Linked DNA regions of Homo sapiens. The protein of the gene in region 1 purifies or fractionates together with the protein of each later gene. This does not show direct contact. Each region holds a gene or a part of one and is shown in the gene's direction. Other genes may lie near its edges.

Region 1 (4,387 bases):
CATCCAAATTTTCTTGACAATGTATATTCTTTGCATGTATATATATATGCAAACTTGGATGTTGTTTTCTAATGTGCGAATGAGTGCTTCATCTAGAGTTTGATGTTTGCACAGCTTTGTAATAGGAGGTACTTTATAATCACTAATTATTCACCTACACAATCCCTGCAAGATAGGTCAAATATTATCCATATTTTACAGATGAGGCATCTGAGACGGGGAGATCAAGTGACTCACCCAGGGTCACACAGCAAGTCATTGGCAGAACAGGGATTGGAACTGAGTTCCTGATTCCCAATCCTGTCCTTGGTCTGCTTGGCCACTCTACCTGTATGTAGTATAAGTTTTCAAATCATGTTTGTGACAAGCTTCTGACACACCAACAAAAAGATTAGAAAACAAATAGGATGAACTGTTAAAATGACAGTAATATACAGCAGCTATAAAGCAAAGTATGGATGTCATTAAGTCACAGAAATATGTTTTGAAGTTAATCAGGAGCTAAAATTATAAGCTGCATAGCAAGGTCCTGTTAGAAAGGAAACAGACAAAAGGAGAATGCTGGCAAAGTGAGATGGAGTCTGAGCCGCCAGGCATCCGAGCCTGATTGAGGCCATGGAGGTGGGTCATGGCACCTTGCCCAAGCACTTCTGCTCTAATGACATGAGTACATGAAGTTCTTTGTGAAAAATAGGGCCGATTGTATTTAACTTAATAACTTGAATTATATTCTTTGTGTATAACTTTTCAGAGAAGGCAGTTTTGCTTTGGGGACTGAAAAGCCCGAGTTGTAGTTTCAATGTCAATTTATTTCATCAACACTAGAAACTAATATATTAACTAAAATAAAGATGCCAAAAAATGTATTTCACGTTACAATGTATCTTTAGCACTTTCTTAGGAATGAGTAGATTCATGACACAAGATTATCTGATCTAGTAATATATTCTATTCCTATATTTAATGTGTTTTAGAGGCAACTACCATTTAAGGATAATAAAGTTGTTTCTTTTGGCTCCTTAAATAGCTTATGGCTTTTATTTTGGAAGAACATAATTACACTCATGTGTATCAGCCAGTGAATGTGTAAAAATAATTTTATACACTTTGGAAGAAGACAGTCGTCTGTATCTGTTTCTTTTAAATTATACAGCATCAGAATTTCTCTTGGTACAAAAAAGAAATTAACCACCAAGGAGTGCCTTAATGTCCACAGTGAGCCCTTGGTAATGAGTTAGGGTTTTTGTTGATATGTCCAAAATACTTTTTAAGTATGTTTCATTGTAAATTAATCAGAATAAAATTTTTCTTGCTATTCACCTGCCAGTATATATTTCTGTGATCACTGCCACTGCATATACAGTATCTGGTTAGTTTGATCTTTCAACGTCTCTTTTACTTTTCTTTCTGTCCTGACATCCTTTTTAATTTTTTTCTCCATGATTTTTCATGCTGTACAGAATGCACTCATGAATTGCATTTCAGGAATATTTAATACCATAATAGCAAGTTTTGTTGACAAACATTCAAATTGGTTTCAGCTCTAGAAATTCAATACTTAAATTAGAAGGAGACACATGTTCCTCAGAACATAATAGCTATATTCCTTTTATAGCTCTCCGTTTCATTAGGCAGCATGAGCATCTGAGAACCTCAGTATTAAAGCAGTAGGACCTGTATAAATTATATGTAAATATGATAATTAAGCATTTCTTTCCGATGGTATAGATCCGTTGAAGAATGTTTTTTTTCTTAGAAACAATCTATGTGTTTTAGGATTCACATGATCTTGAATTTTTTAAAAATCACCTGGCCAGCTAGCAATTAAATATCGTTTACAAATTTACTTTCACATTAATCAGTAAGCAGATATTCCTTCTCATTTCTAGCAAAATAAAATTACATGTCAAGTTTCATCTGAAACTATGTAATACCTTATTTGCTAGCCTCTAAAAATTGTTTTCATTCCACATAAGAATTTGCTAAGACTGTTGCTTGACCTTGGTGGCTTTATTTTGTTCAACAGGTCATGTACGTAGAAGGGACTGCAGTTGTGATGGGTTTTGAAGATCCCATGCTACAGACAGATGACACTCCTATTAAACGCTGTCTGCAAACCAAATGGCCATACATTGAGTTACTCTGGACCACAGATCGCTCTCCTTCACTAAATTAATTTGTCTAAGTATTTATAAGGAAGATCTTAATAACAGATGTTGAAAGAAGGAGTCAAGACTGGCAATTGGCTGGATTAAGCTAAACACTGGTATCACTGATTAACTGTAAATAACAATTAAAAACACATTTTCAGTGTTTATGATATGTTTAAATTATTTGTCCTAAAGCTTTATGTTAAAGATTATCCTATTTTACCCCTTCGTGTGAAATTTACTAGCAAAATTAAGCTTTCATCAAAGTTCATCACTTTTGCATTCAGATACTTGGTCATTTACTTACCAAATTACAAACGCAATACTACAGCATTTGTATATTAAGTATCACAGTTACTATTGATAAACTACTTTTGGGTTTTATTTCATTGAGGCACTTTTTTTATTGTTTGAATGATTCCGGCTTGTAATATATCAGCCTCTACAATGAAATGCAGAAGAGTTCATTTTTCTAAGATCTGTTTTTCATTAGAAATATTGACAAATAACACATTGTCAACCTGGATCCTTTGACAATTTACTTAACTCTGGCATGTTCACAAAAAGTAGAAACTCTAAGAGACCATTACCATTTATTCACAGATGTATAGGGGATGTATTCTAAAAACTGACAGAAAAGAGAATCTGATAGTCAACACTGTTAACTTTTACTGTGTAATTGCCAAATACACTTTTCCAAATTTGTCCCAACAGCCCTGTAAGCCAGCTTTCTTCTATATTTATAAACACGATAAATGCATGAGAAGATCTGTTATTACATTAGTATATTACGTTATTTATTATGATCCTAGTTGATGGCCTAAATAAACACCTTTTTCTTTAACTGTACCCTTGCATTTTTTACATTGGTGGCTCAAAATAAACAAATACGTACTTCTAAATGTTTCTACCCAATAACCCTGAGAGCACAGAGTACTACAAATGGCTAAGTCATACAGGACCTCGAATAAGAGACCAGGCCTTATGCTAACCTAAGAGCTCTGCTAACTCAGCCAGCCAGAAGCATGAGAACCCACATGGCAGCTTTCTAGACCAGTGAGCAAAGATGCAGAAGCCCGTTTACTTGAGAGAGAGATCTGCTGTATTCTGATAGGTTTGTGGCCCAGCAATTTAAAATCACATAGCCATTAATACTTTTTTTCCTCCACGTGTAAAGCCACGTGTAAAGCAGATAATTATGTAGTATCCTCTTACACATTTCAGAACTGAACATTACCTTCAATAGTATAGTTCCTGTGTGAATTTCTGTTTGGGTTTTGTTTTCTTTCGTACACACACACAATTACAATATAATTAAGCATAGGGAAAGGCATGAGATTTTGTGTATAACTTTTGGTGACATTCTGTTCAGGAGTATGATACTACTTATTAAACTTACAGCTTTCAAATGTCAATATTTTGGTCTAGGCTACTTCCAAATCTGTATAAAATATATAATGCTAGAATTAGTTTCTCAAAACTCTGGTTTAATAATCCCAAATTCCAAAAGGATTACACAAAATCGTAGATTGTCTCATAAACATCAAGCCTATGAAATAGAATGGTCCTCTTACCATTGTTACACAACAAATCATCCCAAAACTTCATGGCATAAAACAACCATTTGATTAAATGTACAAATTCTTTGCTCAGGAATCTAAACGGGGCAAGGTGGGGATGCATGGCTTGTCTGCTTCAGTCAGCAGCCAGGGGCTAGAATTTTCTGAAGCTGTCTCTACTCACGTGGCAAGCATGACTGGACCTTAGCTTGATATCATTGCTGTAGAACACTACATTTAAATAGCCATGGGAACATTTCCTTTCCACATGCACTTGGGCTGCTTACCAAACTAGATTATATGCTGGCAATAAAGTAAGTCTAGAAAATCTCAAAAGATTGGAAATTAAGTGACACACTAATGAATTACCAAAGGGTCAAAGAGAAATTGCAATGGGAATTAGAACATACTTTCTACTGAGTGTTAATGAAAATATGACATAGCAAAAATAAAGGAAATATATAGCATTAAATATGATATATTAGAAAAGTAAAACATTTGAAAATTGGGAACCTAAGCTTTTATCTCAATAACAAACCCAAAATAAGAGGAAGTAAATCCTAAAAGAATATCCATATACAAAAGAATGAATTTGGATCCCTACCTCACACCATTTGCAAAAAGTAACTTAAAATGATTGATTATATATCTAATTATAAAAGCTGAAACTATAAAATC
Region 2 (4,314 bases), on another chromosome or scaffold:
TTGGTTGTGCATTCCAGCATTGTATTGGCCTAATGAATTAGTTTCCCAAAGCCACAGCTGTGATTTAATAACAGCAGAATGTAGGCAAAGCAGGAGTCCTCTGAATAGGCAAGTGCCCTTTTCCTCACTTCCATCTTAGGAGGGGATGTCACACCAGGTGGTTTAGAAGAAGCAGTGATGGGCTGGGCACAGTGGCTCATGCCTGTAATCCCAGCACTTTGGGAGGCCCAAGCAGATGGATCACTTGAGGTCAGAAGTTCGAGACCAGCCTGGCCGACATGGCAAAACCCTGTCTCTAGTAAAAATACAAAAATTAGCTGGGTGTGGTGGTGCGTGTCTGTAATTCTAGCTACTTGGAAGACTGAGGTTTGAGAATCACTTGAGCCCAGGAGGCAGAGGTTGCAATGAGCCGTGATCGTGCCACTGCACTCCAGCCTGGTTGACAGAGTGAGATTCTGTCTCAAAAAAGAAAAAAAAAAAAAAGCAGCAGCAGCAGTGATGACACAGGAGAAGCAGTCAGGGGGTAGCCTGATGAGAAAGTCTTGCTTTCACAGTTTTTTCTCTGTCTTATCTCTTCCGCATCTTATTCCCTTTTGATAATAGAAGGTCCAATGCATGTCATTCCACATCTGTGTTCCTGTTTTCAACTTTTCCCTATTAAAAAAAAAAAGGAGGAGAATGAAAAACCTTGTATAACCAAATTATTTACTATTAGTTAATTTAGAGTGATGAGATTGGAAAGGGGCATGAAGATTATCTTTTTCTCTTTATACAATTCTGAATTGTTTGACTTATTACAAATAGATATGTTACTTTTGTAAATAACCAAACAAGAAAAGAAATGGCTATGATAGCCTAGTTTTAATGAGTTACAAAGCAGATGACTTCACCTGTACTGAAGAAATGTGTGCTTGGCTGTACAGGGATGTACATGTTACCTCTACTACAGCCCCACCCAATTTAGGCCCCTTCTGCTCTGCAGCCCCACTCTGCAGTGCACACAAGGAAGGAAGACTGCATTTAGAGTCAGATTAAAACAAGCCCTGAGCACTGGCTGGAGTGTCAGTTCCCCAAGAATATTCACCCATCCCCAGAGGCTGGCAGATAGTATTAGAGTTGCTCAGTCTTTGTGGAAAGAGTGAATTACTGTTGCAAAACAGAAATGACTTTTCTTCCAAATAGTCATCCAAACTTCCAAGCAAATCACCGTAAGATAGTATGATGCTCATTATTCGAGTATTCAGACATAACAATTGTTGCACATGGCAATATGCAATTACTTTTGGAAACTTCTGGTAGCTTAGCAAGATAAGGGGTGAGCTACTCTGTTACTTGTTTATTTCCGAGTGTCCACTTGTGAGTCCTCACATGCCCTGTCTCAAAAACAAAAGTTAACAAGGAGCTTCTTGCCAGTGGTGTCTGCTGCTCTTTCCTTACTAGAGTGTTATATATCTGACCTACCGTTTGTGGACTAGCCTGGGAACTAATTATCATTTATAACATTACATCTTTGAATAAAAGAGTACCAAGTATCAAACAACCAACTTATAAACAAATATTATGAATATAACAGCCTTGCAATTTAATAACTTTTTACAGTTTTGAATATTAGAGACCCATCACTTTGATGGATTTATTTGCCCTTCAGTTATTACCAAGTGATTCTGAAAAGTCCAGGGGTTACTAATAAGTGCTGATTTGACTGCTCCTCCCTGCCAGGCTAGTATGGAGGAGAAAGACTTTTCACTCTTGAAGGAACACACCATGCTCTTCTCCGTACATCTTTGCACTCTCTGGTTTTGGTTTTATGTTTACAAATGCCTGTGATATGGGGGGAAAAAGAATCTTTGTTTAAGAAAAAAAATCAGCCATGTGCTAATCAGGTGATAGAAGAGAAAGAGATCTAAGGCGGCACTGATCTAAGCCAGAGGTGGGACATTTAGGATAAAGTTAAAAGCAGAACATGGGCTGGGCACAGTGGCTCACATCTGTAATCCCAGCACTATGAGAGGCCGAGGCAGGCGGATCATGAAGTCAGGAGATCGAGACCACCCTGGCTAACACAGTGAAACCCCATCTCTACTAAAAATACAAAAAATTAGCCTGGCGTGGTGGCATGCGCCTGTAGTCCCAGCTACTTCGGAGGCTGAGGCAGGAGAATCGCTTGAACCTGGGAGACGGAGGTTGCAGTGAGCCGAGATCGCTCCACTGCACTCCAGCCTCAAAAAAAAAAAAAAAAAAAAAAAAGCAGAATATGAAAGACTAAGTACAGTTCAAATGCAGTGGTGACTTTGATTTATAGCAAGAACAAGTTTTCCATTTGCTCTATATGGAAACGTAAAGAGATTTTGAAACTGCTTTAACAAGGGCTGCCACAAGAATTTCTTTTATTGACTTGAAAAATTACTCCTACATTCATGATGTCACAAAATCGTATGTATTTTTCAGTCATGGTTTCATGCATTTTTATTCTATAAACATACATTATAAGTATACAAATATAGATTATATTCTATAAATAATTCAAGGATTTATAACATATCTAAAGATACATTCCTTATAAATATCAGGGATTTTTCTGTATAAATTACTTGTTTGTTTATTATTATTATTATTATTTTGAGATGGAGTCTAGCTTTGTCACCAGGCTGGAGTGCAGTGGCGTGATCTCGGCTCACTGCAACCTCCGCCTCCCGGGTTCAAGTGATTCTCCTGCCTCAGCCTCCCGAGTAGCTGGGATTACAGGCACACACTGCCACGCCCAGCTAGATTTTGTATTTTTAGTACAGACGGGGTTTCACCATGTTGGCCAGGATGGTCTGACCTCGTGATCTACCCACCTCAGCCTCCCAAAAGTGCTGGGATTACAGGCGTGAGCCACCCCACCTGGCCTATAAACTATTTATTTATTAGCACTGTGCTAGTGGTTTAAAAAGAAAACAAAAACAGATATGGTCCCCGCCTTGCAGAGCTTGCTGCCTAATTGTCTGGTCACCGAGTGGCCTGACTTCATGGATGGCTGCTGCGGAGTAGCAGTTGAGGAGCGAAGAGGTCTTACAGAACACCCACAGGCCGCATCCAGAAGCCTCACTCATTCTCCCTGATCTCAGAATGTCCTTTTCTTTTCAGCTATGCCTCCAACAAAGCAAGTAAAGCTGCTTCCGTCCTTCTGTATTCTCTGTGGGCACACACGGAACTGCATCATGCCTACAAGAAGGTAAGAACATGAACAAGGAATGTGTCATAGTTAACAGAGCCAGGTAATAATGGCCCACTTGACTTGACCCTGGGAAGAAATCGCTAAAAAACTGCATTTTCTTGTGTGCCAGTTTTGTTACCTTTCACGTTTCTGTTTGCTTATTCCAAAGGCTCAGTTTAAGAAGACAGATTTTGTCAACAGCCGGACTGCCAAAGCCTACCACTCCCTTAAAGACTGAGGAAAATGACAAAGTATTCTCGGCTGCAAAAATCCCCAAAGGAAAACACCTATTTTTCTACTACCCAGCCCAAGAAACCTCAAAAGCATGCCTTGTTTCTATCCTTCTCTATTTCCGTGGTCCCCTGAATCCAGAAAACAAATAGAACATAATTTTATGAGTCTTCCAGAAGACCTTTGCAAGTTTGCCACCAGTAGATACCGGCCACAGGCTCGACAAATAGTGGTCTTTGTTATTAGGGCTTATGGTACATGGCTTCCTGGAATCAAAATGTGAATTCATGTGGAAGGGACATTAATCCAATAAATAAGGAAAGAAGCTGTTGCATTACTGGGATTTTAAAAGTTTGATTTACATTTATATTCCTTTTCTGGTTCCCATGTTTTGTCACTCATGTGCACATTGCTTCGCCATTGGGCCTCCAGTGTATTGTTCTGCAGTGTTGAAACAGAATGGAAATGACAAGAAATATCTGCAGTTATCCAGGAGAAAGTATAATGGCAAAATTATTGGTTTCTTTCTTTACTTTGTGCTTGTTTTTATCCCCTTGGGTTGTTTTTCTCTGATTTTTAAATAAACTTAAGAAATTTAGATTACAGAGTATGCATGACTGTAAGAAAAAGAAATTGAGAGGAAGTGATCATAGCAAATTAAAGAAGTCTTTTCCTCCCAGAACTTAAAGTAAAATAAAAAATAAATAAATAAATAAAATCTTTTCCACAGAGAAAGGCAACTGTGATGATAAAATTTAACGTTCCCCCAAACACTGAGTCAATGAGATTTTTCTCAGGAGATACTTTACCTATAACAACGCCGTTAAATCCAAATCTCTTCTAAACGATGGCATTCTATGTAATGCCTTTCCTGGACTTTTTTG
Region 3 (5,053 bases), on another chromosome or scaffold:
GGTGGGCCCGGGGGTCATGTCCCAGCTCAGCTGGTCCTGAGAAGCTGCCTGGTAGACAGTCACCGGCACAGAGAGCTGGAAAGTGCCCTCGACCCCAGAACCTGGGTCCTGTGAGGACATCCACCCTGTGTGAGGCCAGGGAGTGCTCAGCAGATGGGGGCAGCAGGGGGTGTCAGCATGGGTGGGGGTTCCTGCCAAGGCAGGCAGCTGAGCTGGCCCCACCTCAGAGTGCAGGGGCCCTCAGCTTGATCTTTTCTGGGCTCCACTCTTGACTGATGGACCCATGGGGCACCCTGGCCCCACCCTGCCTGCCTTGCCCCAGCTCCTGCCCTTGCCCTGTAGGGCTCTGCGGCCTCCCCTGTGCCTGTGTGCCTGGCTCACTAGACCCTGGACCTGTGGTCCCTCAGCTCCACTCTAGTCCCCTTACTCTGTCCCTCTACTGCCTGGCGTCGCTCAGCTCCTCCCTGCCTGTCCGGCGCCCAGCATCCTGTGCCCATGACCTCACATCTGTCCCTCTGCCCGGGTCCCCCACTCACCTGTGTTTTGGTCCATCTTTGTCTGCTGACCCCACTATAGATTTTAAAAATACAAATATGCATGCACGTGGTTAAAAACTCGCTGATGTCAGATGGCTGGGATGAAAGGACTGCCTGCTGCCTTTCCTCTTGTAGTGCTCGGACACCTCTGCAGGCGAAGCTCCTTGTTTTTTTTTTTTGTTGTTGTTGTTGTTGTTTTTTCACTTCTTATTTTGAAATAATTATAGATTCACAGGAAGTTGCAAAAAAAAAAACAAAACAAAACCCGTGGGAGAGATCGCACGGACCCCTCCCCAGTTCCCCTGATTGCACACACAGGGCATATCTGGGGTCTCTGGATTTGTGTGTCTTACTTTGTGCGTCTGTGCACGCATGTGTATAACTGCAGTTTTATCACGTGTGAATATCTGTGGCCATTCTCAGGCCCACGCGGCTTCCTGCTCCTGCCCCTGAATGGGCACCCCCAACACCCCAAAACCTGTTCTCAGCTGTAAAATCGTGTCATTTCAGGAGTGTCATAGATGGATGCATCGGCCTGTCACTTTTTAGCCTTACCCTTTTCCCTCACCATAGTGCCCTCAGATCCACCCACTTCTGTCCATCTCCAGCTCCCTGTTCTTGCTGAGAAGTCCCACATGGTGTAGTGGCACCTTGATTCTCCCTTTCTGGCTGTTACCAGTATAGCTGGCTGCTGTGAGCTTTCGCTGCAGGTTTTGTGTGAGCTGCAGTCTTCGTTTCTCAGTGATCCATGCCCGGAAGTGAGAGGGCCAGGTCGTGGAGTAGTTGCTTGTTTGGTGTTGTGAGGACCTGCACCCTGTCTTCCAGAGGGCCACCCGTTTTGCCTCCCCACCAGCAGCATGCCAGTGACCTGGTTTCTCCTCATGCTGGCCAGTGTTCAGGTTCACCACTGCATCTGTCTGGGCCACATCGCCTGTGTTTCCCTGGTGGCGTGGTGACCTTTCCGCGGCACACCTGCGGCTGCCCCTCTGTGCTGTCCTTGCTGTTCCTCCCGTCATCTTAGCCCACGTGTGTAAATGACATATGTTCCCCTCCCTTGTGGGTGTTGTTTTTGATGTCCTGTGACCGCTGTCCTGGAGTGTGGGCCAGATTCACTGGCTGTCACAGCTGGCTATGCCCACCCTCCCTGCGGCAGGGTCCTCAGTGAGACCTGTGCCTACTGGTTCTGGGTGATGAGCGTGAACGTTCTCCGTGGCTGCTGGCACGTGGGCATGACCACAGGGTAGAGTGAGACTGCAGAGATGAGGGCAGCAGGCCCCTGCTTGGCACCTGAAGCCCTGGGCAACTGGCAAGGACTGAGCCCTCTCCTGGCTGGAAGGGGCTGGGCCACCTGCTCTTGGGCTTGTCTCTGGAAGGCCCTCTGGGGGTCTTACTACCTCCCTGTCTCAGCTCCCACCAGCCTGTGAAGCCCTGTGCAGTCCATACCTGCAATCAACCCCAGCCATGGAGGTGGCTGTACCCCAGGTGTCTCCACTTAGTGCCCCCCCCCCCGACATGCCCCACGCTGCCCAGCCTCTCCTCTTCCCACCATCCGTCTGGTCAGGGGTCATTCTTGTGGTGCCTGCCCAAATCCTCTGAGGAGGGCTGCCTGGAGTGCAGGTCAGAATGGCTCTGGGGCCCCGATTGGGTTCTGAGACTTGGCTTGGGGAGGCAGGTGGTGGGCATGGGCAGAGTGGGCCTCAGGCATGCTGTACCTCCCTGACAACCTCCTGGGCTCCTTGCTCCTCCCTCCTGCCCACCTTAGGACCCTTGGGCTCCTCGATGGCTTCCCTGGGCTGGAACAGGCAGGTCTGGTTCTCAGTGGCTGTGCACACCGTTCCCCTGCGGGGCCCTGCCCATCCCTGCTCCCACATCCAGCGGACTGTTGTCATTTCTGCCCTAGGCTCTGGGACTACTCCGGATGATGCCCTCGGGCAGGCTATTGCAGTTCTGCCAGTCCCTGGGCAAACAGGGTCTGTCTGCGCTGGCCCCTGTGAGCTCGTCTTTGCCTGCTTAGACGAGAGCTCCGGAGGCTCAGCTGCGCACGGCTGTGGGCAGGGCTTTCCATGCGCTGGTCCAGGTGTACCCTGCCTGGCCTGCTGTGCGTTGTCTGCACGCACCCTCGCATTGCTGTGGGCGCGGCACTCTGCGCTGGTCTCCAAGGTGCCCGCATCTAGCTGTGATGCGCGCCTTGGGAGGTGCTGCCTGGTGTGGCTGTGGGCGTGGCTCGCTGTGGGCGTGGCTCGCTGTGGGCGTGGCTCGCTGTGGGCGTGGCTCGCTGTGGGCGTGGCTCGCTGTGGGCGTGGCTCGCTGTGGGCGTGGCTCGCTGTGGGCGTGGCTCGCTGTGGGCGTGGCTCGCTGTGGGCGTGGCTCGCTGTGGGCGTGGCTCGCTGTGGGCGTGGCTCGCTGTGGGCGTGGCTCGCTGTGGGCGTGGCTCGCTGTGGGCGTGGCTCGCTGTGGGCGTGGCTCGCTGTGGGCGTGGCTCGCTGTGGGCGTGGCTCGCTGTGGGCGTGGCTCGCTGTGGGCGTGGCTCGCTGTGGGCGTGGCTCGCTGTGGGCGTGGCTCGCTGTGGGCGTGGCTCGCTGTGGGCGTGGCTCGCTGTGGGCGTGGCTCCCTGCGTGTGGTGACCTGGGCGCTTGCCTTAAAGGCGCAGCCCCTTGTGGCTGAGGGCAGAGCTCTTTGCGTTGGTCCACGGTGTGCTCCTCTGCCCGGGTAAGGCGCGCTCCCTCATGCAGCCCTTTCTGGCCCACTCAGTTGGTGAGCTGCCATGCGCCCCTGCCTCTCTCCCTGCAGGCTCCAGGAACACTCGGAGGTGTCTGGCTTCCTTCTGGAGTGTGACAGCTCGGTGCAGGGCGCGCTGCAGAAGCACCTCGCGCTATACAGGATCCGGCGGAAGGTCACGGTGGAGCCGCACCCGGAGCTGCGAGTGTGGGCGGTGTTGCCCAGTTCCCCTGAGGCCTGCGGGGCTGCATCGCTGCAGGAGAGGGCAGGGGCTGCCGCCATCCTCATCCGCGACCCGCGAACAGCACGCATGGGGTGGCGGCTCCTCACCCAGGATGAAGGCCCAGCCCTGGTGCCCGGGGGCCGGCTCGGGGACTTGTGGGATTATCACCAGCACCGATACCTGCAAGGTATGGGTGGGGTGGGCACGCTGGGCTGGATTGCACGGGTGGAGCTGGACGATGTTCAATTCTCGCTGGTTTCCCCCCTCCAATCCCTGCAGGCGTTCCTGAGGGGGTCCGAGACTTGCCTCCTGGGGTGGCCCTGCCCCTGGAGTCCAACCTGGCCTTCATGAACGGCGTGAGCTTCACCAAAGGCTGCTACATTGGCCAGGAGCTGACGGCCCGCACCCACCACATGGGCGTCATCCGCAAGCGCCTCTTCCCTGTCCGGTTCTTGGACCCCCTTCCCACCAGTGGCATCACCCCTGGTGCCACGGTGCTGACTGCCTCAGGACAGACTGTGGGCAAGTTCAGGGCTGGCCAGGGCAACGTGGGGCTGGCCCTGCTGTGGTCAGAGAAGATCAAGGGTCCTCTGCACATCAGAGCCTCTGAGGGTGCCCAGGTGGCCTTAGCCGCATCTGTGCCAGACTGGTGGCCTACAGTCTCCAAGTAGTCCGAAGCCTTGGCTGGCGCAGGCTGATGGGGAGGCTGGGGCCTGGGGCCTTTGGCCTCTGTCCAGGGTCTTCCCGTCCCATCTGTCTGCTGCGCCTACTGGGTGGGAGCCCTGGTTTCCATCTGGGAAAGTCCCCCTTGTAGGTGCCCTGCCTGGCCCCACCCATGCTCAGGGGCCCCAGGCACGTGGGTTGTTTTCTCCCTGGACTTCCTGTGGCCCCAGAGGAGCCCACCGTGTGAGTGCTGGGCTCCAGATGGCGCCGGGTCCCAATCGTGGCTCCACACAGGGTTGTCTGGGAGGACGGGACGGTGTCTCTGGCCAGCACTGGCAGCTTCCGGGCCTTGTACCCCACTCTGCCTGGCATGAGCCTCATGGGGGGTTGGTCCCTGTGCCTGGAAGCGGGGTGGTGTCCAGGGTCTGCAGGCTGGGGCTCGGGCTTTGGGAGTTGTTTCACTGTGCTTGCTTCCAGCATGTCTCAGGGTGGGGCTATGCGTGGTCTAGAGGGGTCTGGGGCATTGGATCAGGTGGCATGTGGGTGTCTACACATCGAGAAGCACACAGGGATGAGCCACTAGGTATCCCATGCTGGAGGCTTGTGGAAGGCTGTGCCCATCTCCCATGTTTCCCCACCTCTGTTCCTCCTCAGAGCCCTCCAGGAGCGTGGGGTGGGGGCCAGCGCAGGGCTCAGGAGCCAGCAGGGCAGAGTTCTGCCTGTGTGTGCTGGGTTTTGGCATAGCCTGTGTTTGCAGTGAGAGTGACTTGCTGTCAGTCACGGGGCACAGCCTCCTGTTCACCCACTGGCTTCCCCCTTCCCACTGAAGTGTGAGCTCTATGTTTCAGGGCATCTATTAAAGAGTGAGCCACAGGCAGCCCCTTGGGAGCTCTGGTTTCATTTGGGGGAGAGG
Region 4 (5,053 bases), on another chromosome or scaffold:
TGAGTGGGTAGTCCCTGGGTCTTCATCCAAGTCTGAGCTCTGTGTGGCCCAGTCTTGAGAGGCTTGGGCCCACAGCTGTGAGTCAGGGAGCCCTGGATTCTAATCTTCCCTCTGCACTAAGTCCCCAGGTAGCCTTGGGGAGTTCCCTCCCTCCCTCTGGGTCTCAGTCTCCACATCCTTAGGATGGTTGAGCTAAGGCTTTCCCTACATCAGTGACTGTCAGTTGGCCTGGGGGCTAGAGGGGAGGGGATGGGATAGGGTAGATGCTGATCAGACTTCCCCACACCTACCGTCCCAGGAGAGTCTGAGGTGCTCCCAGCCCCTGGACTGCAGTCACCGCCAAGCCTCCTGTGGGTGTCATCAGCTTGTCGTGTCTTCAGATGTGTTGGGTGGAGGAGTTTGAGACTGCTGCAAAGCCCACCACCCAGTGGGCCTCCATGCCGCTGTGATTGTGCCATTGTTCATTACATGTATGGGGGACCTTGTGGCAAGACACCACACAGCGTCTAACAGTGGGGAAGAGGCGGTTTTCACCCTGCAGACGTGCCTGGCTTTTCTTCACCTGTTTTTTAAGAGAGGCACCCATATTTCTCCCCAGTGTTGATGTTTGTGGCAGCTGCCCACAGCCAGATTTCACTTAAATCTTTTCCGATTGTTGTCCCCCAGCCCATATGAGTGGGCAGCTGTGGTGTGGTGGGAAAGTGCATGTCTGTAAGCTGGCAGGGGGCTGGGGGAAAGGGTAGGTGCCCTAAGAGTCCCTCCTGGCCTCACACCAGCCTCTCCCCACTGTCCTGCAGGAAGTGTGGCCCCCGGCTGTCAGCAGAGGCTGCAGAGAAACTGAAGAACCGCTACATCATCATGCGGAGCGGGGCCCGTCAGCACGAGAGGGACAGTGACCGCCGCTCCAGCATCCCCATCACTGTGCGGTGAGCAGGCGGGCAGGGCTGGGCCATGGCAGATGGGGCTTGCTTTACACAGCAGGGTGTGCTTGGCAACCAGGGGCAGTGGTCCAGGCTTTTCACTTGGCACAGGCCCATAGTAGCTCTGGGCAGGAAGAGTCCCTTTGGAGCATAAACTATGGCCTCCTTGATCTCAATGATGATCCATGTTTCTTGATTTAAGGCCGGGCAAACCTAGACCCCTCTTGTCTGAATTTGGCCTGGCTTCTCCCATTGTAGGAAGCCCGAAGGGAGGGAAGGACCCAGGCCTGGGAGTCAAGAGTCTTGGGTCCCAGCCTCTAGCCCACTGTGTGACTGTAGGGAAATTACATTCCTTCTCTGGCCCTCAGTGCTTTTAGCTCCTAACTCTGTTCATTCTTGTGACTTTGTAGACAATACAGTGGGTAAGAGTTGGGATTTACCTGGTTTGAATCCTGTCTCCAGCACTGACTGGTTGGAAATGGATTTGGCTATAAGTAATGGTAAATCCAGATAAAGTAGCTTAAAGAAATAGGAAGTTCATTTCTCTTTTCTGTAGCACTGTCTGGAGGAAGATGGTATGGGGACTGGTGTGAGGACTCCTCAAGCTCCCCCTTACTCTTAGTCCGAGATGGCCGCTAGAACTTCAGCCATCACCTCCAGGCAGCAGGACAGGAAGGAAAGAGAGCTTCCCTTTTAAAGGACACTTCATGAAGTCCCACACAATGCTTGGACTTACAACTTACTGCCATAGATTGGTCACACAAATACAACCTGGTACAAAAGATGTCTGGGATGTGTTTTAGTGGATCGCTGTGTGCCAGACTAAAAACTGGGGTTCCAAGCTAGGTGCAGTGGCCTACATTGTGATCCTAGCACTTTGGGAGGCTGAGGCAGGAGGATTACTTGAGGCCAGGAGTTTGAGACCAGCCTGGGCAACATAGCAAGACTCCCATTTCTACAAAAAATAAAAAATTAGCCAGGCATTGTGGTGCATGCCTGTAGACCCAGCTCCTCAGGTGGCTGAGGTGGAAGGATCACTGGAGCCCAGGAGTTCGAGGCTGCAGTGAGCTATGATCATGCCACTACATTCCAGCCTGGTCCACAGAGCGAGACTTTGTCTCAAAAAAAAAAAAAAAAAAAAAAAATTGCAGTTCTATGACTAAGATCAAAAGGGAGATGGATTATGGGGACACCTAGCAGTCTCCACCACAGTCTTACCACTTTGGGCAAGCACCTCCCTGGTAACGGGCTGGCTGGGGAGGAAGGGAATAGCGGACCGAGGCTACCCTGAGCACGCTGTTGCCCCCACAGGCAGCTGGAGGCCATTGTGCGCATCGCGGAAGCCCTCAGCAAGATGAAGCTGCAGCCCTTCGCCACAGAGGCAGATGTGGAGGAGGCCCTGCGGCTCTTCCAAGTGTCCACGTTGGATGCTGCCTTGTCCGGTACCCTGTCAGGTGAGCAGATGCAGGGGCCATGGTCTCAATTGATCTGGGTTCCCTGGCTCGGAGCTCTGTGGGCAGGGCTCTGGCCTGCTGGGGGCCTGCAGTGTGTGTCTTGCTTCTCTGAGTTTGCTGAGCTTCTCTGAGTTTCTTTTTGCCATAAGACCCCTCTCCTCCTTTCTCCCCACCGCTGTTTCCTCCAAGATGGGAAGAAGCAGCTTCTCTCCAGACCCTTGAACACAATCCTCTTGACCCAGGTCATTGATGATAACCCTTCTCACTGGCTAGGAACAACAGTTGATGCTCTGCTTCCTAGAGCTTGTCAGCATTTTCAGTGCTTCCAGAGTTATTTCTTGCATTTTGCCTTACAGCTGCCCCCTGGAAGCCAGGTGAGCAGTCAGTCCTGCCCATGTTAGAAATGAGACAGCTGACACTCGAAGGGGCCTTTCCCTGGTGCCCAAGATCACAGTCGCTTGGCTGGAATGCAAGTCTCCTGGCCCCTAGGCCAGCGTTTTCCACACCATAAGCCATACTGTCTGGTTTCGGTCAGCCTTTCAACAGACTGTCCCAGGCACCGATCATGAGCCAGGCTACCTACGCTGGGGAAAATCTGTTCCTTCACCCAGCAGATACTTCATTAGTGTTACTGTTTGCCAGGCACTGTTCTAGGTGCTGGGAGTATAAGAGCAATCAATCACAGGGTCCCGGCCCTCCTGGGTTCTCATTCTCGTTCTAGTTGGGGAGAGATAGACAGTAGAGAAACAAATGCAGGTAGTGTAGGTAGTGAAAAAGGCAGTGAGGGAGATGATGGCAGGGCCAGGTGTGTTGGAAAAGGAGGACGTGCTCTTTCCCATGGAGTGAGTGGGCATGGCCTCTGCAAGGAGGTGATGCCAAGCAGGGAGCTGCATGAAGGGGACAGTGTGGCTCCTTGGGGGAAGAGCTGCTCAGGTGGAGGCAGCGCTAAGTGTCAGTTTCCCCAGGAGGGAGCAGGTTTGGTGCATTTGAATGGGGAGGCACTTGGGTGAGGAATGGGGTGGGTGGGGCCTGTTCCTCCTGTCCCCCTTGGTGAAGACTCAGCCTCTACCCTGGAGACACTTGCTGTCACATGAGACATTGCAGGTGGAGGCCTCTGGGATGCTGCAGGCACAGAGGGCAGGGGTGATATGGAGTGGTGATAATTTGAGTTGGGTCTTATGGGCTATGTAGGAGTTTGCCTCACAGACTCCCCTCTCAATGACTTCTTGACCATGAGCCCACCATCTCCTTAGCTGAAACACCAAGGCCTCTGTGGCAGTAATTGGAAGTCACGAGCCTCCTGGTTGCCGAGGGCTCCTCAGGGCACCTCGTAGATGTGTCCAGGGCAGGCTGGCTTCCCTCCTGGGTCACTGATGGGCCCCTTCCAACTCTCTCTCTAATCTATCTGCTCCAGCAACAAAAGGAGTCCTGCTGTGGCCTCCAAGGGCCCGCAGGACTTGGTCCCTAGTGACACTCTGGCCATGTCTCTGCTGCGCTGGGCCCCGGGCTGCTTTTTGAATGAGACAGGTGTGTTCCTGCCTCTGTGACTTTGTGCTTGGCCTGGAGTGTCCCCACATGTGCCATATCCTGTCTCCTCAATCAGGCCTGCACCACCCTGGCACACTCGGTGCCCTTTTCTGACTTACTCTTCGGGGCCTGGCTCAGGCTGTTCTTCCTTGGGCTAGAGGCTGTCTCTGTCCAAGAACTCCCATTGTCCCAGCTCCCCGGCTGCCTCACTTCTCCATGCCCACAGGGGTGGAGGGCTTCACCAGCCAGGAGGACCAGGAGATGCTGAGCCGCATCGAGAAGCAGCTCAAGCGCCGCTTTGCCATTGGCTCCCAGGTGTCTGAGCACAGCATCATCAAGGACTTCACCAAGCAGGTGAGCCTGCCTTGGAGTGGGGGTGTGAGCCGGCACGGGGTGCAGGTCTTCTGCTGGTTCCCACCCACTCAGCACTGGCATCTTACTCAGCAGACAGGCCCTGAACGGGGGTAGGATGGACAACTGTCCCTTTCTCAGACCTTTTCTAGCCATCATTCCTTCCCTAGGGACATCTTCATCAGGAGCAGGGATGGGGGTATTTTTTCTGTCCCACGAAGGGGAGGGGAGAGCAGAGGTGGTTGGATTCTGGTGAAACCCCATACAAGTTCCCCGCAGCCCTTCCCGTCTGTGCCTTTCCCCGTTGGCGGGCGTTTCATGGAGTGGGAAGGGGCAGAGCCATGAGAGTGAGCTTTCTGGCTCACTGAGGAGGGTACTGTTGGCCCCATAGAGAGAAGATGGGATTTCCCAGATGCTCTGGAAAACCTGTCACCTTTAAAATCTCAGGATTAATCCTAGTTTCTGGTCTCCGCTCCTTGTACATCATCTCATTTTGATTCAGGGCAGTTTAATGGGTGGTATCGTGTCTATTCTATAGGTGCGCAGACTGAGGCTTAGAGAAAGGTTTAGAGCTTCGGTTCTAGAGTCAGATGGGACTTAAGTCCCAGCTCTACCTCTTAATTGCTGTGACCTTGAGCAAGTGGCTTAGCCTCCGTGTGCCTCAGTGTCTGGTACACAGTGGGCACTCAGGAAGTGTGGGCCCTTTAGGTCAAAGGAGCCTGAGTACAAAGTTCCCCGTGAGCCTGGGGATGTCTGGGCTCTGTCGGAGTCCCCTCGGGCAGCACGTGCCGTTAGCCAGCC
Region 5 (5,053 bases), on another chromosome or scaffold:
AGTGTCAGGTGTGTTTTTTTCCCTTTAATTCTTCAGTATGTTTATATTCAATAACAGTATTGTAATTCATTGAGTTAACTAGTAAATTGTGTGCTTTTGAAAAAACATGAAAAATGTAAATTGACAGCATACTTCATTTGGAAAAAAGTAAAAGATCCGAGGAACTAGTATGTCACTTATTTATTTTTATTTTATTTTATTTTTTACTTTTTGAGACAGGGTCTTGCTCTGTCACCCAGGCTGGAGTGCAGTGGCATGGTCACAGCTCACTGCAGCCTTGACTTCCTGGGCTCAGGTGATTCTCCCACCTCAGCCTTCCAAGTAGCTGGGACTACAGGCATGCACCACATTGCCTGGCTAATTTTTTGTGGAGATGGGGTTTCGCCATGTTGTCCAGGCTGTTCTTGAACTCCTGGGCTCAGGCAATTTGCCTGCCTCATTCTCCCAAAGTGCTGGGATTATAGGCGTGAGCCACTGCGCCCAGCCTTACTTATTTTTAAATCAGATTTTTTAATCAACTAAAACAGCTATGAGTTAAGTACCTGCCCTGCAAAAATTTTTAGAAAAAGTTTTAGGATTATGAAATTAAGAATTATTTTCCTTAACTGGAACAGTTCTAAAATTTATCTGATACTTCTCTAACAAGTGAGTGATCTCATGTAACCCCAGTTTGTATCTTAAAGGCTGCAGCATAGAATTGAGCTGTATAACAGTGTTAGAACTGTCAAGTGATAATCACAGAACAGTTTGTATCGGTTTTATAATTCTCATGTCTTGATCAGATCTGAAGGAAATAGGCATACCCTCCAACATTCTAAAAATTATTTATTTTTATTAGGATTTGTTTATTAAAGTTCCACGAGCTGCTTTATGGTCAGTTGGGCTGAGTAGTAGATATCTTAAAGACATGCAGTGAAAGTGAACCCTGTCATATCATGGTGCCTCTTTCAAGGTTCCTCTGTAAGTTCCTCATCTTGCAGAATTATTTCAATACCAAGGTATGGTTGAACCAGCTGTCCAGCCTTAACTCTATTTAGTGCCCCATTACTAATGTTCTTTTAACTGGTTTGTATGTGTTTTAACTGTCCAGTGTTTGGATTTTACCTCTTGATAGCTCCATTTGTCCCTGGTGCTGCTTTTAAGGATGTAGGGCCATGTGATCAGGTATCAAGTTGAGTAGGTACGCAGTTGGCCTGGTGATGTATCTGTGCCTGTTTTATCTTCTCCCAGGAAGAGCTGCTTTGGTATAGTTGTTTACTTGGATTCATACAAAGAACAGGGCAGCAATCTTGGAAAGCTTTCTGAAGCTTATAAGAACCTGAAGGGGTTTGGAGGGGGAACAGTAACAAAGGCTGCCTTTATGTCTTTGGTCACAAAGCACATAGATGTATGTTCTGTAAAGACTAAAGTGATTGTTATACCAGGGCTTCCTGACCTTCGGGAGAGACTCAAAAAAGCAGAGAGGAGCACAAAGTGAAGTTAATTTGGTTGGCTTGCTTTATCTGGTTTCTCATTTTCTTTCAATTTAAACCTGAACATAACACCCTTCTCCGATACCTATCCAGCAGACTCCTGGTTGGGAAGCCCTGTATTAAATTTTGAGAATGTACACAGTTTTCTTTTGTACAGTGCTTTACAACTGCTAAAAGTTAACTTGTTTAAAGCAAAACAAGACCTTGAAAGGTCAATCATATTAAAGCTGGTTTGATTATTAATAGTTATCTTTTAGGAAGAAGCTTTTTTCCCTATGTAAGATGTCATACTGCAGATTTAAAATATAGACTATCAATAAAATGCATGAAGTGATCATTTGTGCTTGATCATCTCTCCTTGGGTTTTTCTTTAAAAAGGGGAATCTGCTATAAAGGTTCTGTTGCTTCAAACCAATGTCAAATAGACTTGATTTTTAGAGTCATGGAATTACAGTGCAACCTTGATTTTTATTCCCCTCACTGCTATGAGTGTGGGCAGGTACTGGTTTATATGTTATAACTTCCGTTTTATCTGTGTTGTGTAGTTGAATGGCTTAATCGTTGAGTGGTAAAATAAAAGATTATATTCCAATACAAGAATCCTGGAAAGATTTATGTGAATGACATTTTAAGTAGGCGCATCTTTGCTGTTTCTTGTATTCTCGCCATTGCTCTGACCACTCCCTTGCTTGCCCTGTATATATACAAAAACTTGTAGGTGTGCACGTGTGCTTGTACTTCTGTCTTCCATTTCTATCTTAATCTCTTAAACATATTGCTTAAGCCACTAAGATGTCCTTGTTTCAAGTAAATCGTCACATTGTGACACCTGGTGTATTGTATTATAGTTTCATTTCCTCTGGTGCCTGCAGAGCTATCTGTCATTGGCATCATAACTCGGTTTCTCAGGATAGTTTTGATGTAGTCAGCTCTTCAACTCATGACCTTCCCAAGGTTTTAAGTTTAGTGTCATTCATGATTTTATTATTTGAAACTCAATACCACCATCAAAAAGTTAGTGCTCTAGACAATGAAGCCAAAGCACAGGCATCTTAGGTCAGTGAAAAGGATCCAGACATAAATTAGCCAGGTGTGGTGGTACACAGCTGTGGTCCCAGCTACTTGGGAGGCTGAGGTGGTAGAATCACTTGAGCCCGGGAGGTCAAGGCTGCAGTGAGCCATGATCATGCTGATGCACTCCAGCCTGGGTTACAGAGCAAAACCTTGTCTCAAAAAAACCCCCAGATACCTAGAAGAAAGGATTCGATAAATCTGGGTGGATTATAAACTGAACTCTTAATGGTCATTTTAAAAAATAAGAAAGCAAGGGTCCAGTTTCTTTGAGGTCTTTGAATTTAGACAAGATTTAACTATAAGGCCTTGCATGGATTACTAACTATAATTAAATTAGCTAAACTTTTCTGGTTGCTGTCAGGCATTGTATTAAGTATTCTATATAAATTATTTAATCATCACAGTGACTGTGAGGTGAAAGTATACCACCCATTTTATAGGTAATGCAGCTGAGATACAGATGTTTGGTAATTTGCCCAGGTCACATAGTAAGTAGCAGATTATTTGCAATCATCTTTGATGCAGTCATCTTCCTTGTGCTCTTAATCCCACTACTATATGACTTCTAATTTGTTTCTTAGTATTTATCCCAAGCCCTAGACTAGATTGCTTATGAGGTGTGATTTCTTAGGAAAAACATCAGTTTTGGCTGGTTTGCCAAGAAAAAAAAAGGCCAAATTGGTTTTTGTTTATTTTTTTGTTTGTTTGAGATGGATTCTCGCCCTGTCGCCCAGGCTGGAGTGCAATGGTGCGATCTTGGCTCACTGCAACCTCTGCCTCTGGGTTCAAACGATTCTCCTGCCTCAGCCTCCCGAGTAGCTGGGATTACAGGCGCCCGCCACCACGCCCAGCTAATTTTTCTATTTTTAGTAGAGACAGGGTTTCACCATGTTGGCCAGGCTGGTCTTGAACCCCTGATCCCATGATCTGCCCGTCTCGGCCTCCCACAGTGGTGGTATTACAGGCGTGAGCCACCACGCCCGGCCGCAAATTGTTTTTTGTTTTTTTGTTTTTTGGAGGATTAATGGTAATATACTGTAAATTCAGTAAAGCACTGGGCATTACCAGATACACCTTAGCACTATGAATAACATGAACTATCATTTTAGCAGTTTAAGTGTACCTTGTAATCAGCCCTAGGGCAAACGGTATCAAGGTGTTTTATTTCCAGAAGTCTCAAAATAGACTGGAATAAAAATTTGGTGAATTCATCAACACAGACAATGGGTCCACGTCTTGCAGCTACAGCTGCTGCAGCTACTCCTGCTGTCCGCACCGTTCCACAGTATAAATATGCTGCGGGAGTTTGCAATCCTCAGCAACATCTTAATGCACAGCCACAAGTTACAGTGCAACAGCCTGCTATTCATGTACAAGGTCAGGAACCTTTGACTGTTTCCATGTTGGCATCTGCCCCTCAAGAGCAAAAGCAAATGTTGGGTGAATGGCTGTTTCCTCTTATTCAAGCCATGCACCCTACTCTTGCCGGTAAAATCACTGGCGTGTTGTTGGAGATTGATAATTCAGAACTTCTTCATATGCTCAAGTCTCCAGAGTCACTCCATTCTAAGGTTGATGAAGCTGTAGCTGTACTACAAGCCCACCAAGCTAAAGAGACTGCCCAGAAAGCAGTTAACAGTGCCACCGGTGTTCCAACTGTTTAAAATTGATCAGGGACCACGAAAAGAAACTTGTGCTTCACCAAAGAAAAATATCTAAACATCGAAAAACTTAAATATGGAAAAAAATATCAAAATATAAAAGAAGGAAACTGAACCGTATGTACCGAGCAAATGCCAGGTCTAGCAAACATAATGCTAGTCCTAGATTAATTGATTGAAAAACAAAAAACACAAAAAAAATAGTAAAATATAGAAACAAATTAGTGTTTTATAGACCCTGGGAAAAAGAATTTTCAGCAAAGTACAAAAATATAAAACATTCCTTTCTTTAATTTTGTAATTCTTTACTGTGGAATAGCTCAAAATGTCACTTCTGTTTTAAGTAACAGAATTAATAACTGAGCAAGGAAACGTAATTTGGATTATAAAATTCTTGCTTTAATAAAAATTCCTCTTTAACAGTGAAAACAAAAACAAAAATTGGGGAATTGTTAAATGGTCATCTCAGCCCCTTATTACGTGTGCTCTTGGCCCCAATTATGACAATTTGAAATATGAAATGACTAGAAAGATTCAAATTGCAGCTTTTTAAAAACTATGCCCTGCCGGGTGCAGTGGCTCACATCTGTAATCCCATCACTTTGGGAGGCCGAGGCAGGCAGACCACGAGGTCAAGAGATCGAGACCATCCTGGCCAGCATGGTGAAACCCCGCCTCTACTAAAAATACAAAAAGTAGCTGGATGTGGTGGCATGCGCCTGTAGTCCCAGCTACTCGGGAGGCTGAAGCAGGAAAATCGCTTGAACCTGGGAGGCGGAGGTTGCAGTGAGCCGAGATAGCGCCACTGCACTCCAGCCTGGTGACAGAGTGAGACTCCGTCTCAAA
Region 6 (4,669 bases), on another chromosome or scaffold:
TAAAGCATTATTTGAAAAGGCAGTATAGGAAGAATACAGATAGTATTCTTCAGTACAGATAATACCGCTGTACAGTACAGATAATATTACTGCTATTACAGAATCAGCAAGTTGAATGCATGCTTCAGGGAATAGGGAAATGAATGCGGACTTTTTCTAACTGATTTAGATGGTCTGTCTGACCTCTCTAGAAAAATATGTGTGTATGTATATTTTGAAATATATAAGGAATGTTAAGTCTTTCTCTTCCCCTTTTTAGCCTTAGATTGTAAGCAAAAGAAATCAAGGTCAAGATCTGGAAGCAAGAAGAAAATGCTAACATTACCTCATGGTGCTGACGAGGTTTACATTCTCCGATGCAGGTATATGCCTATATTGCCAAATCTGATCAGTTTCTTCATACTTTGCTTTGAAACATATTAGCTATTTCATTTGGGATTTTTAATTTGTGGCAGAGTGCATTCTCAACAATCAAGTTATAAATGAACTTTTGGAGATAGGCTTAAAATCTTAATTCAGCTCACAATATCCGTACTTCAACAACTAATGAATCAAGTTTTTTACATTAGCCAATAGTAATGTAAATCTATTATACTGTGATTTATTAAAGTAGCTTGGCCAGGTGTGGTGGCTCATGCCTGTAATTCCAGCACTTTGGGTGGCCAAGATGGGTGGATCACTTGAGGCCAGGAGTTCAAGAGCAGCCTGGCCAACATGATGAAACCTCGTGTCTACTAAAAATACCAAAATTAGCCAGGCTTTGTAGCGGGTGCCTGTAATCCCAGCTACTTGGGAGGCTGAGGCAGGAGAATTGCTTGAGCCCAGGAGGCAGAGGTTGCAGTGGGCCGAGATCGTGCCACTGCACTCCAGCCTGAGCGACAGAGCAAGACTCTGTCTCAGAAAAAAGAAAAAAAAACTGGCTTTCCTTGTGTTTATTTGGTTTGTATGGTTTAATTTTGTTTGGTTTGATGTTTTGTTGTCTTGAGTTCTCGCTTATTGGGAACACATTTTCTCTCCCCTCATAGTCACGCCTTCTTCCGTACTCACACTCACACACAACACACATGAAGAAACATAGACACAATGCCATTTAAGGAATGCTAAACTGGGGAAGGGTCTTTTCTAAAGAATGACATATTTTGGAGTAATAGTTGTTGTTTCAAGTGAATTAAGATGTGTAGATGTTAATTTTAAAATAATAATGCTCCCACCTATACAAAGATTACTGGAGTTTATTATAGCTGTTAATAAACATATGAATTGGGAGTTTTGATGTTTTATTAAATCATTTGACTTTAGAAACTTTATCAATTGCTGTCTTTAAAATATGATAAAGTTTATTCCTTATGTTTTAGGATTTTGTGTGAATTAGTTTTAAAGAAAGAGAATTGGTCATGTTAAGAGAATTGTTATCTTTCTGTAGGTTTTGTGGCCTAGTCTTTCGAGGACCCTTGTCTGTTCAGGAAGACTGGATTAAGCACTTACAACGACATATTGTAAACGCTAATCTTCCACGGACTGGAGCTGGCATGGTGGAAGTCACGTCACTACTTAAAAAGCCTGCCTCCATTACAGAAACTTCATTTTCTCTACTAATGGCCGAAGCAGCTTCATAGAACCAGGAAACCTTTTAAATAGCCAGTTTGAATTGGATGTAAATTTGAAATTCTTTTTTTTTAAGCCACATTAAATTATCTGTTTATAAATACTAAAGCAGGAAAATGGGGGGAAAGTGAATTACAGTGACATCAGAGCAAATTGAATACTTAAAACAGTAAGTAGTCTATATATTTTATATAGGGTGGAAGATGTGTTTTTAAGGTTTATGAAGTTTTGTTGGTTAACTGTGTTCACTCAGTAAAAGAGCAGTACATGTAAGCAGCCATTAATAAACTGTTGCACATGGATACTTATAGACAGACTTATTGGACAATTATGTTTTTTGCAGTGTTACCAGAATCAAGGCTCTGTTTATTCCCCACAAGACTTGCATAGAAAAATAAGATATTATATTTTGTTTGTATGTATTTAGTGTTTTGTATAATACCAAGAACCGCTGACTAAATTTACTCAAATTAGGGCATTAAATATCATGTACTTCATAGTTTGAGACTGTTCACTCAAATAGGGCAGAGTACTATTCTATCTAGATGTGTAAGTGTTTTTTTTAAAATCACATGGAACGGTTTTTTTTATACTAAAAAGTGGAGGGAGATTTGTTTAAACAAGTATTTCTAAAAGAAATATGTACATAGTTCTGGAAATTATTTGTGGTAAGGAAATATTCTTTACTCCAGTTGCATTTCTCAGACAATAAAGTGGTGCATCCATGCTACCTCCTACTTTGTCAACAAAGATGCTATTTACCCTTTACATTTTTGTATCATAATAGATTTTAAAAATCTAATGTTCTTTATTGCAAGACATTCTTTTGTTAACAGGTTTGTTTCTTTTTAATGTTTTACCTAAAATTTGACATGCTTACAGGACAGGTTTGCCTCTTACTTTATTTAACATTGTAGAAATGTAATTAATAAACAATGCTCACTACACAGTTTAGAATAGACGTTCTCATTTATATTATCTTCCAAATTTGATCAGTTAGCAAAACTTAATACACCAATTAAAATATTTCTACATATGAGAATGTTTACAATTTAAATTTTAGAACTTGTTTTGGATGTGATTATATGTACGAAAATCGTGTAACACTATGCTCATGCTAAGAACCGACATAACAGAATTACTGAAATAAATGTGCTGTGAGGAATGGAAAATATGGTGCAGGTGTCTTGGTCATGATAAATTGTGATTCTTTTTAAAAATTTTTTCCAAAAACAATTAGGTATTTTAATCTGAAATCAGATTCCTTTACAAACAACAAGTTTTTGTATGCAAGCACCATTTTATTTCATGTAGTATGGCTAATACTATAGTTGAACCAAGGATATGCATTGATTCTTTGCTTCGTATGTAAATAAAGTTAAAAACAGTTAAAATAAGGAGTATTTTGGTAGAGTATATACATACCTCACTGCCAGTGAAATTGCTTTCCTATGGTATATCTCCTTACCAGAAAAATCTCTAAATAAAAAAAGGTTTAAAGAAAATTAAAATGTGAAACATTTCTTATTTTTATCATTGGTGGTAATAGTTCACTTCAGGTTGTGTTTCATTGGATTTAAATTGTTTATCCTTGCCAGGTTACTTGGATCACAGAGCATAGTTTTTCTAGAATCACCTCATTGGTCAATATAATGTATGTGAGAAAAATCATTTTCCCCCTTTCATGATTAATCAAACCTCTAAATTCAGAGCCATCTTATATGCAAAATTAGAAGGTTGGACTAGTTGGATCATTCCCAACCAAGGGTCTCCTGATCCTTAGGTTAATAGATAAGGGAATAGTACTTGTAAGTTATTTTCAATTTTACAAAAGTCCCGATAAAAACTATGTATTTGTCTATAGTGACAAAACTAACTAAAACATCCCATTTCTTTACTTTTGACTGAAAATATACCAAGTCTGTATATATTGGTTATCTCTTACTGAACAAGTTTCGTTGATAGTTATATGTCTTTGAATATATATTTTTAAATTGGAAGACATACTACATAGCAAGTGGAGTCCAGAAGTAAAAACCAAACAAACAAACAAAAATCATAGGAATCTTGTGGGAAGGCTAGTAATCACTAGAGCCCCTTTCCACTCTAATTCTTTTTTTTTTTCTTTAAAGACAGAGTTTTACTCTGTCACCCAGGCTGGAGTGCAATGGTGTGATCATATCTCACTGCAGACTCAACCTCTCAGGACTCAAGTGATCCTCCCACTTCAGCCTCCCAAGTAGCTGGAATTAAAAGCACATGTCATCACTCTTGGCTAGTTTTTGTATTTTTCGTAGAGACAGAGTTTTACCATGTTGCCCAGGCTGTGCTTGAACTCCTGGGCTCAAGAGATCCTTCCGCCTCCGCCTCTCAAAGTGTTGAGATTACAGGCATGAGCCACCACACCTGGCCTCCTAATTCTTACACTTCTATGATTTTGTCTTATCAGGCCAAATATCAACATGTGTGAATACAAGTAGAAGAATTAGTTTGACCACAAGTTTCGGAATCAAAACTACATTTAATTTTAAAATATGTTGAACTATATGTAAACAATTATTTCTCCTTCTAGTTATATAAAGAATTCAGTCATCAGAATAAAATATTTCACATCAGAAACAGTAGACTAGAGTGACTCCTGAAAAGTAAATTAAGCAAAGAGCATTTTTCATAGTAAAGATATTTGGGTTACAAAATTTAAAGAATTCTTTAGGAAGCATTCAAAATTCGTCTTTTATTTGGCAACTAGAAAATTAATAATATGTTTTCATTTGGTTCCCACTAGAAGAAAAGTATAAAATATTGTCTCAATTTACATGATAGATTTTTATGTCAGCATATGGCCTGATTTATCATTCAGTATTGACTAATTTTCTTTTAATTCTTTTACCATTGCCTGAGATATGCAAGCTTCTAATGCTAAATTAGGGCTTTAAAAAATTCCAGTCTGGGCCAGGCGCAGTGGCTCACGCCTGTAATCCCAGCACTTTGGGAGGCCGAGGCGGGCGGATCGCGAAGTCGGGAGATCGAGACCATCCTGGCTAACACAGTGAAACCCCGTCTC

Evidence for each region.
Region 2: the proteins of MINDY3 (region 1) and PKP2 purify together in Homo sapiens (affinity purification with mass spectrometry; 2 studies listed by BioGRID and IntAct, with this or other methods). This does not show direct contact.
Region 3: the proteins of MINDY3 (region 1) and IBA57 purify together in Homo sapiens (affinity purification with mass spectrometry, with the first as the bait; one large-scale study listed by BioGRID). This does not show direct contact.
Region 4: the proteins of MINDY3 (region 1) and MCM5 purify together in Homo sapiens (affinity purification with mass spectrometry, with the first as the bait; one large-scale study listed by BioGRID). This does not show direct contact.
Region 5: the proteins of MINDY3 (region 1) and RLIM purify together in Homo sapiens (co-immunoprecipitation; one large-scale study listed by IntAct). This does not show direct contact.
Region 6: the proteins of MINDY3 (region 1) and ZNF644 purify together in Homo sapiens (affinity purification with mass spectrometry; 3 studies listed by BioGRID and IntAct, with this or other methods). This does not show direct contact.

The regions. Positions count from the first base shown.
Region 1 is NC_000010.11:15,776,781-15,781,167, reverse strand, and holds the end of MINDY3 (ubiquitin carboxyl-terminal hydrolase MINDY-3), read left to right. Parts: intron 1-201; coding exon of another isoform or gene 202-291; exon of another isoform or gene 292-1,319; intron 1,320-2,026; coding exon 2,027-2,176; 3' UTR 2,177-2,994; downstream 2,995-4,387. UniProt on the Homo sapiens protein: Hydrolase that can remove 'Lys-48'-linked conjugated ubiquitin from proteins.
Region 2 is NC_000012.12:32,791,547-32,795,860, reverse strand, and holds part of PKP2 (plakophilin-2), read left to right. Parts: intron 1-3,129; coding exon 3,130-3,217; intron 3,218-3,368; coding exon 3,369-3,437; coding exon of another isoform or gene 3,438-3,582; 3' UTR 3,583-4,314. UniProt on the Homo sapiens protein: A component of desmosome cell-cell junctions which are required for positive regulation of cellular adhesion.
Region 3 is NC_000001.11:228,171,366-228,176,418, forward strand, and holds part of IBA57 (iron-sulfur cluster assembly factor IBA57, mitochondrial isoform 1 precursor), read left to right. Parts: intron 1-3,204; exon of another isoform or gene 3,205-3,245; intron 3,246-3,326; coding exon 3,327-3,664; intron 3,665-3,756; coding exon 3,757-4,148; 3' UTR 4,149-5,053. UniProt on the Homo sapiens protein: Mitochondrial protein involved in the maturation of mitochondrial [4Fe-4S]-proteins in the late stage of the iron-sulfur cluster assembly pathway. Operates in cooperation with ISCA2 in the maturation of [4Fe-4S] proteins.
Region 4 is NC_000022.11:35,419,087-35,424,139, forward strand, and holds part of MCM5 (DNA replication licensing factor MCM5), read left to right. Parts: intron 1-797; coding exon 798-926; intron 927-2,231; coding exon 2,232-2,374; intron 2,375-4,127; coding exon 4,128-4,255; intron 4,256-5,053. UniProt on the Homo sapiens protein: Acts as a component of the MCM2-7 complex (MCM complex) which is the replicative helicase essential for 'once per cell cycle' DNA replication initiation and elongation in eukaryotic cells.
Region 5 is NC_000023.11:74,582,245-74,587,297, reverse strand, and holds the end of RLIM (E3 ubiquitin-protein ligase RLIM), read left to right. Parts: 3' UTR 1-4,322; downstream 4,323-5,053. UniProt on the Homo sapiens protein: E3 ubiquitin-protein ligase.
Region 6 is NC_000001.11:90,913,745-90,918,413, reverse strand, and holds the end of ZNF644 (zinc finger protein 644), read left to right. Parts: intron 1-259; coding exon 260-362; intron 363-1,423; coding exon 1,424-1,616; 3' UTR 1,617-3,110; downstream 3,111-4,669.